Linked DNA regions of Homo sapiens: region 2 is linked to region 1. The links come from fine-mapping of genetic effects on gene expression. A gene starts in region 1. The other region holds a variant in brackets. All regions are shown on one strand. Distances are from middle to middle. Region 1 holds the start of CYB5B (cytochrome b5 type B). Region 2 overlaps CYB5B (cytochrome b5 type B).

Region 1 (2,867 bases):
TTCAGAGTCGGGGCGGGTGCAACAGGCTTATAAAGGGAATGGTGGAAAATATTATACGTTAGTGAAAGAGGTTGCGAATGGATTGTGGAGAGCCCTGAATGGTAGACTGCGAGAGTGACAGGATGAAAACGACGACATCATAGGAAGAGCAATCTGTCAGTTGTAATGGCAGTTAAAAAGTGGCGCACAACACTGTACCTTAACCAAACTTGGAATTCCAAAGTGCTGGGACCTCTAGCGGAGAGCAGTTGAGTTCAATTCTATTTTAGATCACGTAGAGACTAAAATAGTGCCGATTGATCCTGATCATCACAGAATTCGTTTGAAAATCGGATTCTGAATGATGGTAGAAACATAGGATACTCCACATTCTACCCCCAATTGCTGTCCGGGACAGCAATTGCCTTTCTAATCGACTGCCATGTTTAGCGATTACTATGCGCCAAGCGCTTTACAGGCACTCTCATTAAAATAGGCAAACCGGGCCAGGCGCGGTGGCTCACGCCTGTAATCCCAGCACTTTGGGAGGCCTACGCAGGCGGATCACCTGAGGTCAGGAGTTCGAGACCAGCCTGGCCAACATGGTGAAACCTACTCTCTACTAAAAATACAAAAATTAGCCGGGCGTGGTGGCGCATGCCTGTAGTTCCAGCTAGTCGAGAGGCTGAGGTAGGAGAATCGCTTGAACCTGGGAGGCGGAGTTTGCAGTAAGCCGAGATCGTGCCACTGCACTCTGGCCTAGGAGACAGAGCGAGAACTTGTCTCAAAAAAAAAAAAAAAAAAAAAAAAGGCAAACCCCTCTGTAAGAGAGTGCTTTATCAAGCCCATTTTACTGATGGGGAAATTGAGGAGAGACGGGATTGGCCAGATCACGACCTGGAGGCAGCAAAGATGTAAAATCAGGGTTGGGATACAGGCTGCGCCGGTAGTGTAGGGGATAGGAACTTTCTGAGACTCAGGAGAAAGCCACAGCGATGGGAAGGGAAGCAGAACACTGGAGACCCTAAAGGCCCACAGGCTGAGAGAAGTGGTACCTCTCCTGAAGTGACACCTGTCAGCACGCCTCTTTTGGGCGCCAGTCCAAAAATCGCGGTATCTGATTGGCGAGGTTGGAGGGGGCTGAACGACCCTAATTGGTTAGTTGGACCTCGAACCAGACTTTCATCTGGAGGATCGGGCGAGGAGTGGGCGGGATTTCGAACTGAGCCACTCCCTTCATTGGTGAAAAGAAAACGAACCAGGAACTATTCGGAAGTGTGATTGGCTGTTGCTAGGAACCGTCTCAAGGCCTTATGGGCCCTGGTTACGGAAGCCGAGGAAGGCTGAGCGCGGGCTCTCAAGGAAAGTAGTCGCGGAATCTCAGTTAGCGGTGGAGAGGCAGTATGTCCGGTTCAATGGCGACTGCGGAAGCTAGCGGCAGCGATGGGAAAGGGCAGGAAGTCGAGACCTCAGTCACCTATTACCGGTTGGAGGAGGTGGCAAAGCGCAACTCCTTGAAGGAACTGTGGCTTGTGATCCATGGGCGAGTCTACGATGTCACCCGCTTCCTCAACGAGGTGGGGCCTGGGAGGTGGGAGGCCTCTGAAGCTGCTGGGGCGAGGGGTGAAAAGGCTGTGTGGAGTGTATGTGGGAAGGAAGGGAGGCTTGGCTGGGGGCGATAAGGCGTAAGAAAGGGATCACGACCCTCAGAGGGAAACTGGGGTGGGATTGGGGGAGGGCTTTAGTTTGCATGCATTTCCAGTCAGCTCCGAGTTCTGGTGCCTTATGTAATATCATGTATTACTTATGTGTCGAGCATTTGCTGTGTGCTCAGCTAAACTCTAAGCCATCATTATCTTTATTTTACAGAAAGGGAAACTGAGGCTCACAGGTTGAGGACTCTCAGGGCCATAGAGTTAGCAGCTTAGATCCGTTGAACCTAGGTCTGAAGTGCACCCACATCTGTGCTTTTCCAGTGTGCCTTCTGAAGTAATACCGGTTTTGGTTTTCGTCTTCTAGAGTAGAAGCTGAGATTTCTCTCCACACGCTTCCCCATCTTGATTATGCCTCCACTGTTTTTTTTTCCCCCTAATCTGAGTTGACCTTGAGGCCAGAAACTCATAAATCAACCCTTTTTTTTTGTTTTTGACTCATGTTTTGTCATTTTTCTTAAATATTCAAGACTGTTTTATTTAATCTTCAAGTCTGTTGCATTACATCTCATTTTAAAAATTATTTTTGAGACCATGGTGCAACTAATTTTTTTTTTAAGGAAACAGGATAGACTTCTAAATATTTAAAACTTTATTGAGGTGTAATGTACATACGTAAATTGTGCCTATCTAAAATGTACATTTTGATGAGTTTTGAAAAATGTATTCATCCATGTTAAGACATAAACCATTTCCATCATTCTAAAAAGCTTCCTTTCCCTTTGCAGTCATTCTCTCCCAACCCCAGGCAACTAGTGATATGCAGCCGCTAAAGATTGGTTTGAAGCTTTGATTTTCGGTGTGTGTATGTTTGAAGCTTTGATTTTCGGTTTGTGTGTGATCATTTTATTTTGAGCAATAGATTAATGACTTGTGAAAGTTCACTTCTATTTCTCTGAAGCAAATATACTAGTGAAATATTTTTTCGATTAATTTGGGGCCTAAAAGAGAAATCTCTGCATCCTGACTTTTAATTCTAAAAACTTTTAAAATTTAAAAGTTTCCCCCAAAGAACATTATTTTTAATAAATCTTAATAGTGAACAATAATTTAACAAACTCAGAATTTACTAACTTCTTGCATTTGTATGGTGTATGGCATTTTATGCTTTTAAAAGTGCTTTCCGGTCGGGCGCGGTGGCTCACGCCTGTAATCCCAGCACTTTGAGAGGCCGAG
Region 2 (2,500 bases), 38 kb after region 1:
TAAGTAGAGGGGCAGCCGGGTCATTTGGATCATGGAAGAATTATACCTTAAAACTAGTGTGCTAATAAGTTCTATTAAAGAATTATTATGTTAAGGAGAATGATGACTGTTCTGAAGCTCCTAAGGAAGGTCTCTTGCAGTACTTTTGAAGCTGCCATTTGCTTCACCCTGTTAGAACTGTATATGCTTTGTGTGTATGTGTATCCTTATTAGTGTCCAAACTTAACTAGGGATTAAGAGGATGGGTTTGGAATCAGACTGTCCAGCTGCCTTTCTAGCTTTGGGATTTGGGGTGCAAAGCTTATATTTCCCTTGTATGAGATGAGAATAATAACCCTATTTCGTAGGTTATCCTATTTCATAAGGATTAAATCTTTAAAATACATATGAAGCAGATAGGATATTTCTGGTAGTTATATTAGATATGATTACTTCCAAATTTATATTGGGATGGATATGTTTTTATACATATATGAAATGTCACATACATAATGGTGTTTTTTCCTGTTTAAAAATGTTTAATTGTAGAATACGTGAAAAGCAAAAGCACAATGAAGAAAATGTGAGAGTATCCATAATCCCTAACTCAGAAATAACCACTATATGACTTTGTAGAAACACATATAGAGGCATTTAAAGACATCTTATTTGATATCATACTATTGGTTGTTTTTAACCTTTTAAAAAATTACTTTGTAATATTGTCACTCCAATTCAAATATTTTTCCCCAACTACTTTGTGATAAAAGCAGTTAAATTTCCCAAAGTAAATAAAAACTCCTTGCCTATATAAAAACATGTGAAAGCTGAAAGATAGTGAACATTTGGCTTAAAATATTAACAACTTTATTGCTTTCTCCCCCTATTCCTAGTTGCTGGGCATATTGGATTTTACCCATCATAGGCGCTGTTCTCTTAGGTTTCCTGTACCGCTACTACACATCGGAAAGCAAATCCTCCTGAGGAGGCCTTGCTGAAGTTAGAAAGTGCATCCACTTTGGGGCGAAAACTAGAGACTTGCTTGGGGGCTGCAGAAGTGCCCTCTCCTCGAATCCTGCCAGTTGCATTCTTCCCCCTTGGAGCCAAGACGATTGGCCAGACATCACCTCAGATCTGAGACCAGCGTCTTCCATCTCTCAGAGCCTTACTCCCAAAGTACCTGCTCACTGTTCCGTGTTGAACAATTGCCGGTGTTTCCTCTCTTCACTGGTTTCCATGAGTACCCTTATATTTCACAACTTTCTGTTCATAAGTTATAGTGACATTGCTCTTTGGTAAAAATGCCTGCTTTCCAATAC[TTTGA/T]TTGCATATTAGACATTCTTAACAGGGCGGCAGTCTAGTGTTGAAAGTTTTATTTTTCCATTTTTCTTTTAAGTAAATTTTTTTTAAAAAATTCTGATTTAGGGCTAGGTGTGGTGGCTCAGGCCTGTAATCCTGGCACTTTGGGAGGCCAAGGTGGGAAGATCGCTTGAGGCCAAGAGTTCAAGACCAGCCTGGGCAACATAGCGAGACCCCTATCTGTATTAAAAAAAAATCTGATTTAATTCTTTTATTTATCATAAGGGGTTTAATTCCTGAAGTAAAGGTTTGCACCTATTAAACTTAAAACTGCCAAATGATTTTTGTTCTTTTATGTGCGTGATAAAAATACAAAGAATGGTGTGGCCACCTCCTCCCTTTCAAGCTAGGGCAGCAGGTAGCTCTTCCCAGCCCCTGAGCCCAGCCCCTTCCCAAGTGGTGCCGGACAAAAAACTACATGGCCCTTTCGTGTCTTGGGGGTGGAAAGGTAGGGATGAATTGGGGTGATAGAACCCTGGTGAATTCAGAGTAATCTTTCTTTAGAAAACTGGTGTTTTCTAAAGAAACAGGATAGGAGTTTAGAGAAGGCACCAAAGCTTTCACTTTGGTTTGGCACCAGTTTCTAACCATCTGTTTTTTCTACCCTAGCTATCTTTTATTGGTAAAATATAAATGTATAATTATGTTTGTAGAGCTTTACCAAGGAGTTTCCCTCCTTTTTTGTTTGTTGATTAGCAAATTTTTGATTCTCCATTTTCCAAAAGTAAGAGACTCCAGCATGGCCTTCTGTTTGCCCCGCAGTAAAGTAACTTCCATATAAAATGGTATTTGAAAGTGAGAGTTCATGACAACAGACCGTTTTCCATTTCATCTGTATTTTATCTCCGTGACTCCAACTTGTGGGTTTGTTCTGTTTTTCCATGAGAATAAAATACTGGCGGTTTTTTTCTCAGATGTGTGTTCATTGAGAAGTAGGTTACTAGAATTATGTTACTGTGTCTTATTGGTTCAATGATGATTTCTCTGGCATATTAGACTTTTATTTTTTCCCCCATGGAAGCACTTGAGGAAATAAATAGTACACTGGCTGTTTTCTGCCAGCAACTGTGGTGATTTTTCTCCCTGTCCTTTGAGAATTGCTAGTCTGCTTCTGAGCCATTGTCATATCCAGCAGGGAGCAGCTTGGTTCAAGAAGGACCAT

The links.
Region 2: its variant is fine-mapped to the expression of CYB5B in sun-exposed skin (GTEx, PIP above 0.99).

Annotation. Positions count from the first base shown.
Region 1 is chr16:69,423,302-69,426,168 of GRCh38, forward strand. It overlaps CYB5B (cytochrome b5 type B), which reads left to right and starts at 1,318. Exons shown (of 5, transcript NM_030579.3): 1 at 1,318-1,556. The coding sequence starts at 1,383. RefSeq lists enhancers at 601-1,148, 1,149-1,696.
Region 2 is chr16:69,461,558-69,464,057 of GRCh38, forward strand. CYB5B (cytochrome b5 type B) reads left to right here. Exons shown (of 5, transcript NM_030579.3): 5 at 873-2,500. The coding sequence ends at 963. Among named protein-coding and RNA genes, the nearest start is that of CYB5B, 38 kb to the left of the region's middle. The variant TTTGA/T (reference allele first, on the strand shown) is at 1,299.